2 linked regions of the Homo sapiens genome follow. The protein of the gene in region 2 purifies or fractionates together with the protein of the main gene of each other region. This does not show direct contact. Each region holds a gene or a part of one and is shown on either strand. Other genes may lie near its edges.

Region 1 (7,394 bases), on a different chromosome or scaffold from region 2:
CTGACTCTGGGCAAGTTATTCAATCATCCAAAGGTTTTCTCTTTCTATGCTAGGCACTGTGCTGAGGGGAGTGACCAAGATGTATAAGAACTGGTATCCGTCTTGAAAAACATCTTAGTCTCCAGGCAAAGAAAGAGACATCAAAGAGAAAATTATTGATAGATGACAAAATAAAGAGGTGTAGGCCGGTGCAGTGGCTCATGCCTGTAATCCCGACATTTTGGGAGGCCGAGGCAGGTGGATCATTTGAGATCAGGAGTTTGAGACCAGCCTGGCCAACACGGTGAAACCCTGTCTCTACTAAAAATACAAAATTAGCCAGGCGTGGTGGCGCATGCCTGTAATCCCAGCTACTTGGGAGGTTGAGGCAGAGAATCGCTTGAACCCGGGAGACGGAGGTTGTGGTGAGCTAAAATCGTGCCACTACACTCCAGCCTGGGCAACAGAGAAAGGCTGCGTCTCAAAAAAAAAAAGGTATATACCAAGCAGCTAACTCTAACTCAAAGAAGACTTCACAAAGCGCTAAAGATTCTGAGGGCAATACAAGAATATAGGCTCTGAAGTCAGATTACTCGCTGTGAAGCCTTGGGTGGTTTACTCAACCTCTCAGAGAAAAATGGGAAAGGCACCACCCACCTCATGAGGACTGTCATTTTTTTGAGACGGAGTCTCGCTCTGCCGCCCAGGCTGGCGTGCAGTGGCGCGATCTTGGCTCACTGCAACCTCCGCCTCCCAGGTTCAGGCAATTCTCCTGCCTTAGCCTCCCAAGTAGCTGGGATTACAGGCGCCCGCCACCACGCCAGGCTAATTTTTGTATTTTTGGTAGAGACGGGGTTTCACCATGTTGGCCAGGCTGGTCTCACAAGACAGTGTCTAGCACAGAGCAGGTAGCGATTATAAATATGCCTAGGAGTTTGCCAGCACCATGACAAAAGGCCACCCAGGCACCGGGCACGGCATGCGTGAAGCCAGAGAGAGCTCGGGAGTCTCCGTTTTCTCATCCATAAAATGTTTACTGAGGGAGGTCCCTACACCAGGACCTGCTGGTAGGGGCAGGCCACAAGAGCTGGGTGGACACGGGGCCCAGGGGCATGTCCGCGAGGTTAGCCTCTTCCTCCAAACCGCCCCTACATACCTTACTTACCTCGGTCAAACTTCTTGCCCTCCGGGTCAATATCCTTCACATCGAAAATATCCTCAAACAGGATGCCCGCCATCGCGAGGGGGCCACGAGAGCAGCAGAAGGGGTGAGAGCGCGACCACAGTTGGGAGTACGTGCACCCCCTAGCGTGGACAAGACCGGAGAGAACCAAAAGCACCTCCTGAAAGCGCGGCGGCCAGACGAGAGTGGCGCATGCGCACAAACAAGCGGTAACGCGACCACTTCCGCCACAGCCTCCCGCTCGGGGCTACTTAACTTCCGTCCCGAAAGATTGCTTCCGAGAGGCTTCGGCATTGAGGGCGGGTCTCATGTCCAGGTGGCTCTGCCCAGGGCGGGGAAGCAATAGGCTGTAGAGCGGGTTCTCGCGCTCCGCTGGGGCCCTACTGCGCCCTCTTCAGAGGCCGGGTTCCGAAGACTGGAATGCGTGGGGGCCTAACCCAGGCAGGGACCTTGATCCTTGGCCCAGAGAAGCCGGGCCCTAGCCCTACCCCGCCGGTCCGCGTGCCCGCCGAGGGCACAGTCCGCGCCGAGGGCAGGTGGAGCAGAACCCCGCCCCAGAGGTGCCCAGCCCCTCCAGCCGGCACCGAGGACCCCGGGGCCGGCCTGGGCCGGCTCGGCCCTGCTGGACGTAACCCGAGCCGGATCCGTCCAGTTTGGGAATTTGCCATGACGTCGCTATGGAGAAGAGGAAAGCCTGCATTGTCCCCTCCTCTCGTACTGCACCCTCCCACCACTGCCCTCCCTCTTCCCCCCAGGCCCTGCTCTCTTCCCCTACACCGCCCCTTCAGCCGGGCTCCCGCCACCCCCCTCCCCCGGGCATTACCCCTCCAGCTTAGTGCTGCGCGTTCCCCCTCCACTGCCTTCTCCTGGACACGGATCCCCTCCGTGCCCCTTCAGCCTGGCACTGCCCTGTCCCTTGGATACCAGCTCTTCCCTCACACTGGCCCTTCCTCCTGAGTGCTGGCTTCTATCACAAGGCCCCCCCTTCCCGGGCACTGCTCCCGCCCCCTGAGCCCCGCCTCTGCCTCCCAAATGCCCCTTACTCCTGGTGCTGGCTCTCCCGCACACTTGTGCGTTTCCTGGGCGCTGCCCTCGCTCCTCTCACACTATCTCTACGCTGCCCATCCACCCTGCGCGCGCTCCGCCCTCTGTTCTATCCTTCCCCAGCCCCTGATAGAGAACCCAGAACACCAGCAGGCAGTTCCCCCAAAGCGGAGGGATGGAAGCAGCGACTTGGGTTCCTCCTTGGGCCCAGCCAGGGAGAAGCGACCCACGCCCGCGTCCCAGGAGTAGACTTCCCGGCACCTGGAGCTCCCTTCCCTCCGGCCTACCCCTTCCGGTGCCCTCCCCAACCTCCACCCCCGCACACCCCGCAGGCCCGGTTGCTCCAAGTGCACCTACCCACGGGAGCCCCGAGAAAAGGAAGGATGAGGAAGACGGCCCCAACCCTCTCCGAATCCTTCCAGCTTTGCTTTTCACCCCTGACGGGGCAGAGGGGCCTTCCCAGGCCTGTCTGGGCCGCTCGTCTCTTCGGAGGGGCAGAGGGGAGGCGGCTCCTAACGGGCTGACCCGGAGGAGTCCGATGTAGACAGCTCCGCAGCCCCCAGCCCCAACCCCTACGGAGCTCAGGCGTCTGCAGCCCCTCCTGCCTGGGCACGGGGAACCGCGAACCCGGGCCGGCCCCTCCACGTGCCAGTAGACCCGCCCCTCCCGGGCGCCCCTCTCCGACCCGGGCATCCGCAGGGAGCCGGCGCGGGCTTGCGCCTTCCCAGCGCCCCTTGCCGCCTCTCGGGAGGCCCCGCGCGGACCCCAGCCTGGCTGGGCCGTCCCCTCCGGATGGGCCGGCGGGCGGAGCAGCGCAGAGGGCACCGCCCTCGGCCCGCCCGCCGGGGAGGGGACGCGAGCGGGAGGCTGCGCCAGCGGCGCCCGCCGGGGGCCCGCCGCACTCTGCTCTCGGCCTCCCGGGCTGCGGGGACGGGACGGCTGCCGGCGCGGACTTTGCGGGCCGGGAGCCGAGTCCAGGACAGAGCCGGAACCGCCGAGGGAGGCGAGAGGGCAGTGCGCGGAGATGGCGGCCGCGGCGGCGGAGGAAGGGATGGAGCCACGGGCGCTGCAGTACGAGCAGACCCTGGTAAGTGAAGCTGAGCTGAGCCCCAGGAGTGCGCTCCGGGACCCCTGCTCCAGGTTACCCTGGGAAGCGCGAGGACCAGGGGCCTACCCTAATCCTGTCCTAGCATTTTGAGCTGGGGAAACTGAGGCTTGGAAGTCTGAGGCTGCAGGGCCGAAGGGATGGAAAACTGCATGCTGGTTTCTGGCTGAGGCTGAGGGCCTGCAGAGGACAAGGACACCAGGTACTTGTCTCAGGTGTCCTTCCCCTCACCCCACAACATGCACGTTTTCTTTGCACCTCCCCTTCACCACCTGGGCCCAAGTCTCAGCACCCCACTGCCCCTTCCGCGGCACCATTCACACCATTGAACTTTCTCTACGCCACTATCTCCACCACCCAAGACATTCTCTGTGTCCCTGCCATGTGCATGGCACCATGCTAAGCATAGAATCGAGTGTGTAGAAAGATGGTCAGCCCCAGACCCTACCTCTGGAGGCTCCACACCCAGCGTTGGCTCCAGGAGCCCCTCAGTTGACTCTGGAAAAAGGTGGCTTGCCACTCTGGGGGACAGGAGCTTTAGGGAGGGTGGGTGAAGCAGGAATGGGTGTGGGAATTGGGACCTTTGTCTATGCTGATGCGGGGTATCCAGCCCCCACCCACCCCAGGGTGTGTCCCCTGACCTCATTAGAAGCAGGGGTCCTGGGCTCTGAGCTGACTTATCGCCCCCATTGTTACTTGGTGTTTGAGAAGCCACGTGACCCTCCTCATGTCACTGGGGTGGAAGACCCAAGCCCTAGGGAAAGGAAGGGGCCCGTGGTTCCTTTTTACCAGCTTGGGCTGGAATTTGCCCAGGAAGGTGGCAGGGAGGGAACGTCTTGGAGAGGAGAGGCTATAAGTCTGGGAGGTGCCCAGTTAGGAGAAAGTAGCTGGATGAATCAGGATGTCAGGGAGAGGTGGGAGTAGAGCAAGGGTAGAGGGGCCAACCCTTGGGATGGGGTAGGAGACACTTGCCAATCTGCCCAGACCAGGATAGGAGCATGGTCAAGGAAGCCAGGCACCTGGCCTCTGAAATGGTGCCTCTTAACACCAGCCACCTCTCCATCTCCGTCCCTTCCAGCTGTCTCTGGAATGAGCTCTCAGGGTCGAGCTCTGTCCCGGGCACTCTGTGCTCCAGCCTGCTCCCGCCCCCCTTCACCATCCTATCCCTTTGTCTTTCTCTCCCACTCTCACCTCCCTCCTCCTACACCGTGCTTGCCTCTTAATACTCTCCATTCTCTTCCTCCTCCGTACTTCTTCCTCTCTCATCCCCTTCTTTCTCTTCTCCATCCCTTCGCCTTCCCTCTCTTTTCTCTTCTACTTTCTCCTCTCTAGTTCCCTCTCTTCTCTTTGCTTTCCCTTTCCTATCTCTCACCCTCTCTCTGTCTCTATCTTTCCCTCCCTCCCTCCCCCCCATCCCAGCCCCAACAGGAGCCCTTTGTGTCCCGAAGCTCTGCGGGTGGCAGCCAGAATCTACTCCTCCCCGCCCCCCAACACACGCCCAGCTTGGCAGGTCTAGCCATGGTTCAGGCGACTCTCCCGTCCCATCACCCCAGCATCCACAGTCACAGCCCAGCCATCCTCAGCCTCCGCTGTCCCCCAACCCACCGCTGGGCTCAGTGCAGCTCCAGAATGGGGCTGAGGCCACCAAGCCCTCTCCACCCACCCTAAGTGAGAGGCTTTCCACTCCCAGCTGGGCTGGCAGGCTGGTGGGGGTGGCAGTGGAGAATGGGGACAAGGGGATTAGGGTGGGTGGGAGAGGTGCAGCTGAGTTGGTCACAGGCCGGAGGCCCAGCAGGAACGTGATAAGGATTGGGGCTGCGCCTGCTCCTGGGCCCAACTCAGCTGCCCCGAGCTCCACGAGGCTCTTATTGTTGCCCATGTGCCCCTGATCATCCCTTACTCCCTGGCCTTCCCGCCTCCCACTTTTAGACTGTGCCACAGGTTTTTCCACCTTTTCCTCTTCTGGGGCTTCCCTCTCACTCCTCTTCAGTGCCCCAGCCCCAGGCCTGTGAGAAGAGGACCGATTATTCTGCCACCCCCAGAGCTGTGTCCCTGTACCTTGGCTGTCCCCATCACTCTGGCCAGGACAGCCTCCACAGTCTGCAATGTGCATTGTTCCCACACCTCGGGCCAGAGTGGGAACTGTGCGTTCAAGAGGGATATCCAGTGTGGGGGCTGGGAGAAGAGGAGTGGAGGCTCTAAGAACTCTCCCTGCGTTCCCACTCAGCCCATGACCTCGAATGCCCCCATCCCCTCTGTTGCTCCAGATGTATGGCCGGTACACTCAGGACCTTGGGGCCTTTGCCAAAGAGGAAGCTGCTCGGATTCGCCTGGGAGGGCCTGAACCCTGGAAAGGTCCCCCTTCCTCTCGGGCTGCCCCAGAGCTCTTGGAATATGGACGGAGCCGTTGCGCCCGATGCCGCGGTGAGAACTGGGGTGGGGGCAGGGGACCTGGCTGTGCTGTGCTGAGGGAAGCAGAGGCCATTAGAGCTGCTGATGGGGGAGAGGGGACAGTTGAGGGGGCAGTAAAAGGGGTAGGAGCACTTTGGTGCCATCCTCCCCCTTCTTCCCTTCCCTGCACCCAGTCTGTTCTGTCCGCTGCCACAAGTTCCTAGTATCCAGGGTTGGTGAAGATTGGATCTTCCTGGTCCTGCTGGGGCTTCTCATGGCATTGGTCAGCTGGGTCATGGACTATGCCATTGCTGCCTGTCTGCAAGGTGAGGGTGACAGCTGGCAGGGGGAGGACTGGGAATAAACCTCCTGCGTCCATGCCACACTCGTCTAGACATGGAGGAAGGCGTCTTGGCTTCTTGGCCACTGACCACTTTCCCCAGCCAGTCTGACTGCCCAGATTCAGGCATCATCTCGGCCACTCCCACAGGGCACAGCTTCTTGCATCCCCTCTCCAAGTGATCCTCTTGCCTAGATTGCGCTTTGTCCCAGTGAATACCCTCAGGGACCCTTTCCTTCACCCATGCCCTGACTCTGTGTGGTACTCCCTGGGACAGCCTGTCGTATCAGCGTGGTCCACTGGCCAGGCAGGCAGTGGGTGTGTGCACTGGGGGTCCAGCAGGTCCTCTTCCCACAGCCCAGCAGTGGATGTCCCGGGGCTTGAACACCAGCATCTTGCTCCAGTACCTGGCCTGGGTCACCTACCCTGTTGTCCTCATCACTTTCTCAGCCGGATTCACACAGATCCTGGCCCCTCAGGCTGTCGGTATGTTAGAAGAGAAGGGGAGGGCAGAGGCGGGACCCCTGAAATGGGTGCATCGAATGCCTCTCCTGAGACTGTTCCCTCTCCAGGCTCTGGCATCCCTGAGATGAAGACCATCTTGCGGGGAGTGGTGCTGAAAGAATACCTCACACTCAAGACCTTTATAGCTAAGGTCATTGGGCTGACCTGCGCCCTAGGCAGCGGGATGCCGCTTGGCAAAGAGGTAACTGCAGGCTGGGGAATGAAGGAGTCCCTCCTGGTGGAAGAGGAGGCCAGGCCAAGGTCAGGGCGGGCCCCCTCCCGACTCACCGCCTGCCCCACCCCGCAGGGCCCTTTTGTGCATATCGCAAGCATGTGTGCTGCCCTTCTCAGCAAGTTCCTCTCCCTCTTTGGGGGTATCTATGAGGTAAGGGGAACCCTGGGGCAAGTAGGGGGCAGAGGCTGCTGAGCCCACAGCTGACCCCCTCTTGCCACCACTCTCGCCAGAATGAATCCCGGAACACAGAGATGCTGGCTGCCGCCTGTGCCGTGGGGGTGGGCTGCTGCTTCGCGGCACCTATTGGAGGTAGGCAGGGCTCCTAGGTCAGTCCAGCCCCACAACCCTGCCCTTGGCCTCTCCTCCTTGGCCCCTCTTATCTGGGTCTGAGGCCTTAGGCCAGGCCCAGGCCTCAAGTGCTGGTCTCCCTCCCCCTCACAGGCGTCCTCTTCAGCATCGAGGTCACCTCCACCTTCTTTGCAGTGCGGAACTACTGGCGGGGCTTCTTCGCTGCCACCTTCAGTGCCTTCATCTTCCGGGTCTTGGCAGTCTGGAACCGGGATGAAGGTGGGGGCACCCAGGGGATGAGGGCAGCCCGAGATGGTGCCAGGTA
Region 2 (7,731 bases):
CTGGCTACTCAGTGTCTCCTTATCTGCCACCGTGTCATCACCCCCACTTAGAACCCTTGCAAGAACTGTCCAAGAATTAGCAAGAAGCTCAGAGAACTCAGAGTCGTGGCCAGACCTCACCAAGATAATGCCACAAGATCTGTGCCCTTTGTCAGACCATGGATTTCTGTGTGGGCCCCCTCTCAAACGATTCATCTAATCAAATACTAGAAGACTTGTCCCAACAGGACCTCTACCCCAAAGGGACTATATTCCCTTCTTGGACTTTCCACACCTTCTCTCTCAAGGTCCACACCTCCATCCCCCAACAGACCCTCATCTTCAACCTCACAAAGTAACCAGAAGCCATCCACTTAAAGACTCCATGAGTTCCCTTCACTATCTAGCAACCCCCAAATCAACCTCACCTCTTCTGAAGGGACCTGTCTCATGCGTAAAGCCAGCTAAGCATCCTCTTTCTGGCTCCTTCTCAGCCCATCACCTTCTGATGCTCCACGGATAAAGACCAATACCTCAACTCCGACATCCTACAGGGCTGTGTGGCCTGGCCCCCACCCACCTGTCCAGCCCACCCTCCCCTCTGCCCAAGCCACACCAGCCTCTTCCACACCATGGTGGGTATTTTACCCCTTCTTCTTTTTTTTTTGAAGCGAAGTTTCACTCTTGTCACCCAGGCTGGAAGGCAGTGGTGCGATTTCAGCTCACTGCAACCTCTGCCTCCTGGGTTCAAGTGATTCTTCTCCCTCTGCCTCCCAAGTAGCCGGGATTACAGGTGCCTGCCACCATGCCCAGCTATTTTTTGTATTTTTAGTAGACATGGGGCTTCACCATGTTGGACAGGCTGGTCTCAAACTCCTGACCTTGGGTGATCCACCCGCCTCAGCCTCCCAAAGTGGTGGGATTACAGGTGTGAGCCCCCACGCCCGGCCTGTATTCCTTCTTCACAGGGCCTTTGCACATGCCAGTTCCTGCCTTCAGGGCTCTTCTCTCCACCCAGCCCCCTCCCACCCTAGAAAGGAATCCTCTGGTTGGCTCCACTTCACCATCAGATCTCACCTTCAACCCCACCTCCTCAACAAAGCTGCAGGTCCCCTCATTCCAGGGGACGTTCCTTTGTTCCACAGGTGTGTGAACACCTGTCCCTCATAACATTTACCTCAATTTGTCACCAAACACTCAACTGTGGACCCTTCTCATTCATATCTGCTTTCCCACCACACTATAGCACAGAGCCTTGTCTCTGTTTCATTCATTCAGTCAACAAATGGCCGGGCACGGTGGCTCACACCTGTAATTCCAGCACTTTGGGAGGCTGAGGCAGGCAGATCACCTGAGGTCAGAAGTTTGAGACCAGCCTGGCCAACATGGTGAAACCCCGTCTCTACTAAAAGTACAAAAATTAGCCAGGTGTGGTGGCAGGTGCCTGTAATCCCAGCTACTCAGGAGGCTGAAGCAGAAGAATAGCTTGAACCTGGGAGGTGGAGGTTGCAGTGAGCCAAGATCGCTTCATTGCACCCCAGCCTGGGCGACAAGAGCGGCACTCTTGTCTCACACACACAAACACAAAACAGAAAATTATGGGACATCTACTCCCGCCAGGCTTTGGCTAAATGAGGGGATACTTCAGGGAAGAAGGCAGATAAGGTCCCTGCTCTCAAGGAGAGGGAAAGGAAAAAGTCTAAGAAGGAAAGAGAGTGATGTGACACAGAATACCTGGAAAGGGAGGACTGTCAAAGAAACGGCAGTGGGAAGACCTCTCAGCTGGTACTAAGGCACACAGGCACAGCACAGAGAAGGCGCACAAATATTGGCTGCTGGAATGAAGGGATGAACCTCCTGACAGTTAATTCTGTACTACTAGAACTCTCCATCTTCACGAAAACAATGCATTGACCCGAGGCGATGGCGCACACCTGTAATCCCAGCACTTTGGGAGGCCGAGGCGGGGGGATCAAGAGATCGAGACCATCCTGGCCAAAATGGTGAAACCCCGTCTCTACGAAAAATACAAAAATTAGCTGGGGGTGGTGGCGCGCGCCTGTAGTTGTCCCAGCTACTCGGGAGGCTGGGGCAGGAGAATCGCTTGAACCCGGGAGGCGGAGGTTGCAGTGAGCCGAGATCGCGCCACTGCACTCCAGCCTGGACGAAAGAGCAAGACTCCGTCTCAAAAACAAAAAACAAAACAAAACAAAACAAACAACAACAACAACAAAAACAATGCATGGCTGGAAGGACAGCAATATTTTATCCCCATTTTAAAAATGGAAACTGAGGCCCAGAAGGGGTCAGTAACTTGCCTGCAATTGCAAAGTAATTTAGAATTGTGGAATCTAACACTTCCAGTTACAACTCCCTTTTTCAAGCCCATTTTCTTTTGATCCCCTTCAATATCTCCTTTCACGGTGAAGAAAAGTTCTGAGACATTAAGCTGCTTGCCCACGGCCAGGGCTTGGCATGACCGAGGCCGGGCCTGCGGCCAGTGGGCGGCGCTCGCTCTCCCACGCCAAGGCCTGCCCGCGAGCCGTGGGCCCAGTACCTTGTTGGCCAACTTCTTGTTCAGCTCCTCGGCAATGGAGTCGTTGAGCTTCCTCTCAAACTGCCAAGGGGGGATCCGGACGGTGTCCACCATTTCCACCAGGACGAACATCCCGGCCTGCGCTGGGGGCTCTGGGAACAGGAGGGTCAGTCACGCACCAGGGCCGGGGGCAGGGAGAATCCCCGAGCCCCTTGGTCCCGTCCCAGTCGCTGAGGCCCCCAGGCTGGCGGTGAGGTTGCACGGGGCGGTCTCGGGGGCCCGGTCCGGGCCATGCTCCGCTACTACAACATGAGGAAACTGAGGCCAGAGGGAGGCACTCTCCGTCCACAGCTCCGGGTGCGCGCCCGCGCCGCGAGACCCCGCCACGCCACGCCACTCCACGCCACGCCACTCCACGCCCCGCACCCGCGCCACGTGCCGCCGCTCGTATCACGCACCACGCACCACGCACCGCGCACAGCCGCTCGCGCTTGCGCGACTGCGGGCGAGATTCCGAATCCATCGCTTCCGGAAAACTCACCAATAAGAAACCTCTGTCCACCCCCACCCCGCCGAGGCGGGGCGGGGCTGCCTGTGTGCTCGCGCACAGCGTGGGGCAGAGAGAGGGCGAGGAGAGGGCGGGGCCTCCTCCTTTCACAGGAGCAGAGCGGTTCCCCCGCCCCCGACAGCGCTTTCTGTTGCTAGGCGACCTCCGTGCAATCCCGCCTGATTATCCCTCGCCTGGCCTGTGCTTTACCCGCATTGCTGTCCTCTGCTCGGCAGCCAGAGTGATCCTTTGGAAACGCAAACATATATTACCACATCTAAGTTAAAAAAAAAACCCACCGCAAACATAACATGCTTAGCACCCTTAAGTGTTCCGGAGACAAGGAGAATTAGCAGGAAAGGGGCACTTGGGACTGTTCTGAGATGATGGAAATGTTCTGTATTTTGTTTTCGGTGGTATAACATTGACGTATATAATTGTCCAAACTAATTGAACTCGGCAAGATTTTTGCATTTATTTGTAGACATTATGTTCCAATTGAAAAGTTATAATAAATTGGAACAAAAAACACAACCCATTGAACTTAGAATACTAGATCCAAGCCGGGCGTGGTGGTGTACACCCGTAGTCCCACCTACTCAGAAGCCTGAGACAGCAGCATCGCTTGAGTCCAGGAGTTTGAGGTTGCAGTTTGAGGTTGCATGCTGCACTCTAGCATGGGTGACAGTGACACCTCATGTCTAAACGAAAAAGAAGAAGAAGGAGAGGCGGAAGAAGAAGAAAGAAGAAGGAGAAGAAGAAGAAGAAAGAAGAAAGAAAAGGGAAAGAAGAAAGAAAAGAAGAAAGAAAGAAGAAAAGTCCAAAACCTTTATGGTAGTTCACACGGCCCTGCAAGATCTGACCATACCCCCCTCCTATAGCCCCATCATGCTCTGTCTCGCTGACATTCCAGTCTCATTCATCTTCACGTGATAGCATGGGCTAAGAGAATTTGGTAGCTTACCCAAGATCACGTGTTGACAAGTGGTAGAGGTGGGCCCAGTCTGAACCTCACTACCCTGCCTCTAAAAATTGGTGGGGTGTAGATGTATACTGTAGTGGGTTTTTTTGTTTGTTTGTTTGTTTGAGACGGAGGATCGCTCTGTCGCCCAGGCTGGAGTGCAGTGGCGCGATCTTGGCTCACTGCAAGCTCCGCCTCTCGGGTTCACGCCATTCTCCTGCCTTAGCCTCCCGAGTAGCTGAGACTACAGGCGCCCACCATCACGCCTGGCTAATTTTTCGTATTTTTTTTTAGTAGAGACGAGGTTTCACCGTGTTAGCCAGGATGGTCTCGATCTCCTGACCTCATGATCTGCCCACCTCAGCCTTCCAAAGTGCTGGGATTACAGGTGTGAGCCACCGCGCCCGGGCTTGTAGTGTGTTTTAACCAAAATAACAATTTAGGTACTTACAAAAGATACTTGGGGTAAATGACAGAGGCACTTGGAAATGTATGGTGCCTTAATTTGCTGATTTCACAAGCATAGTGATCTCTCAGTGACACTGGCTGCAGTGATGCTAAATGTGGCCTTCCCTGCATCTATGATTTTATTTTTAGGTGTGCTTCTATAGGATTTGAGGTACTTGAGGACAGCAGCAAATGCTACTTCAGCTCTTTATTCCCACAATCCCCTAACACATTCCTAGGAAGCATTGAGTAAAGGTGTTTAGGGATTACCATTAATTCTTCCTCTCAAATGTTTCCTCTTCATTCCACTCCCACTGCTATTGCTTCGGTTCAGGCCTTTTCTTTTTTTTTTCTTTTGAGACGGAATCTTGCTCTGTCGCCCAGACTGGAGTGCAGTGGCATGATCTCAGCTCAATGCAACCTCCACCTCCTGGGTTCAAGCGATTCTCCTGCCTCAGCTTCCCAAATAGCTGGAATTACAGGTGCCCACCACCACACTTAGCTAACTTTTGTATTTTTAGATAAGATTTCACCATGTTGGCCAGGCTGGTTTCGAACTCCTGACCTCAGGTGATCCCCCCCATCTTGGCCTCTCAAAGTGCTGAGATTACAGGCATGAGCCACCGTGACTAGCCAATATCTGGTCATTTAAAAGTATGTGGCGGGGCCAGGCGTGGTGGTTCACACCTGTAATCCCATCACTTTGGGAGGCCGAGGTGGGTGGATCACAAGGTCAGGAGATTGAGACTATCCTGGCTAACACGGTGAAACTCTGTCTCTACTAAAAATACAAAAAAAAAAAAAAAAAAAAAAAAGTAGCCGGGCGTGGTGGCACGCGCCTGTGGTCCCAGCTACTTGGGAGGCTGAGGCAGAAGAATCACTTGAACCCGGGAGGCAGAGGTTGCAGTGAGCTGAGATCACACCACTGCACTCCAGCCTGGCGACAAAGTGAGACTCCGTCTCAAAAAAAAAAAGTGTGTGGTGGCCAGGCGTGTGGCTCATGCCTGTAATCCCAGCACTTTGGGAGGCCAAGGTGGGCGGATCACCTGAGGTCAGGAGTTCAAGACCAGCCTGACCAACATGGAGAAACCCCGTCTCTACTAAATACAAAATTAGCCGGGCGTGGTGGCGCATGCCTGTAATCCCAGCTACTCAGGAAGGCTGAGGCAGAAGAATCGCTTGAACCCAGGAGGTGGCGGTTCTGGTGAGCAGAGATCGCGCTATTGTACTCCAGCTTCGGCAACAAGAGCAAAACTCCATCTTGAAAAAAAAAGTGTGTAGCACCTCCCTCCTCCCACTCTCTCTCTTGCTCCTCTTTTCCCCATGTGATGTGCCTGCTCCTCCTTTGATTTCCGATATCATGGGAAGCTTCCCGAGGCATCCCTGGAAGCTGAGCCTATGCCAGTACCATGCTTGCTGTAAAGCCTGTGGAACCATGAGCCAACTAAACCTATTTTTTTTTTTTTGAGACGGATTCTTGCTCTGTCGCCCAGGCTGGAGTGCAGTGGCATGATCTCGGCTCACTGCAAGCTCCACCTCCCGGGTTCATGCCATTCTCCTGCCTCAGCCTCCCAAGTAGCTAGGACTACAGGCACCCGCTACCACGCCCAGCTAGTTTTTTGTATTTTTAGTAGAGATGAGGTTTCACCGTGTTAGTCAGGATGGCCTCGATCTCCTCACCTCATGATCCACCCGCCTTGGGCTCCCAAAGTGCTGGGATTACAGGCGTGAGCCACCGTGCCCAGCCAGCCTATTTTCTTTATAAATTAACCAGCTCTGTTGCCCAGGCTGGAGTGCAGTGGCGCTATCAGGGCTCACTGCAACCTCCACCTCCCCATTTCAAGCGATTCTTCTGCCTCAGCCTCCAGACTAGCTGGGATTACAGGCGTGCACCACCACACCTGGATAATTTTGGTACTTTCAGTAGAGACAAGGTTTTGCCATGTTGGCCAGGCTGGTCTGAAACTCTTGACCTCAAGTGATCCTCAGCTTCGGCCTCCCAAAGTGCTGGGATTACAGGCATGAGCCACCACTACCAGCCAGGTATTTCTTTTTTCTTTCTTTTTTTTTTTGTGCGTGTCACCCAGGTTGGAGTGCAGAGGTGCCATCTCAGCTCACCGCAACCTCCGCCTCCTGAGTTCAAGCGATTCTCCTGCCTCAGCCTCCTGAGTGGCTGAGAGTATAGGCACATGCCACCACGACTGGCTAATTTTTGTAGTTTTAGTAGACACGGGGTTTCACCATGTTGACCAGGCTTGTCTCAAACTCATGACCTCAGGTGATCTGCCTGCCTCGGCCTCCCAAAGTGCTGGGATTACAGGCGTGAGCCACCACGCCAGGCCCAGGTATTTCTTTATAGCAACGTGAGAACAGCCCAAAACAGAACCCACATGTGATGCTGTTCTCATTCATTCGTGCATTCATTCAACATACTGTTGTGTACAGTTGTTGGAGATGCAATGCAGAAGAAAAACTGGGCCTCAAACCGAGCTTCAACTCAGAGCACTTGGTGCTGGAGTTGGGGGGCAGCAGGGTGGGCACTGAGAGAAAGAGCGAGTTTGTACTCTCAGGTAATTAAAAGTATTTGGAGCCAGGCACAGTGGCTCATGCCTATAATCCCAACATTTTGGGAGGCCGAGGCAGGAGGATTGCTTAAGGTCAGTTTGAGACCAGCCTGGGTAACAAAGTGAGATACTGTCTCTACTAAAAAAATAAAATAATTAGCTGGGTGTGATGGCACTTGCCTGTAGTCCTAGCTACTTGGGAGGCTTAGTTGGGAGGATTGCTTGAGCCCAGGAATTTGAGGCTTCAGTGAGCTTTGATCATGCCACTGCCCTCCAGCCTGGGTGACAGAGCAAGACTCTGTCTCTGAAATAAATAATAATATTCGGGCTGATTTACATGGGAGATGACAACTGGTAAGCTAAGAGGTTAGAGACCTAAGCAGCATCCAGATCAGAGGGCCTTATGATTATATTAACAGCTAACATTCATGAGCACTTACTATATGTCAAGTACTACTTAGGTGCTTTATATGCATTAAGTTTGATCCTCAGAACAGCTGTATACAGTAGGAGCTATCATCGTTATCTCACTTGCCCAATTGTCTCATTTTGCCTCATCTAAGGTAAACAGAGGTTAAGTAGGTCATTCAAGGTCATACAGCCAGTAAGTGGCAAACCTGGGACCCAGGCCCCAGAGTCCCTAATCACGACCACCAGGCTGTGCCCCGCCATGACGTTAGAAGTCAGGAGTTCGAGA

What was found. Proteins that work in one complex are often made in the same cells at the same time.
Region 1: the proteins of POLR3H (region 2) and POLR2H purify together in Homo sapiens (affinity purification with mass spectrometry; 5 studies listed by BioGRID and IntAct, with this or other methods). This does not show direct contact.

The regions. Positions count from the first base shown.
Region 1 is NC_000003.12:184,357,316-184,364,709, reverse strand, and holds the start of POLR2H (DNA-directed RNA polymerases I, II, and III subunit RPABC3), read right to left. Parts: upstream 3,001-7,394; 5' UTR 2,564-3,000; intron 2,470-2,563; exon of another isoform or gene 2,206-2,469; intron 2,105-2,205; exon of another isoform or gene 1,986-2,104; intron 1,838-1,985; 5' UTR 1,218-1,837; coding exon 1,145-1,217; exon of another isoform or gene 1,136-1,144; intron 1-1,135. Other genes in the region: CLCN2 (chloride channel protein 2), read left to right, coding at 3,231-3,293, 5,579-5,735, 5,897-6,028, 6,400-6,528, 6,615-6,748, 6,854-6,931, 7,012-7,090, 7,223-7,348. UniProt on the Homo sapiens protein: DNA-dependent RNA polymerase catalyzes the transcription of DNA into RNA using the four ribonucleoside triphosphates as substrates.
Region 2 is NC_000022.11:41,541,455-41,549,185, forward strand, and holds the start of POLR3H (DNA-directed RNA polymerase III subunit RPC8), read right to left. Parts: upstream 3,017-7,731; 5' UTR 2,648-3,016; coding exon 2,537-2,647; intron 1-2,536.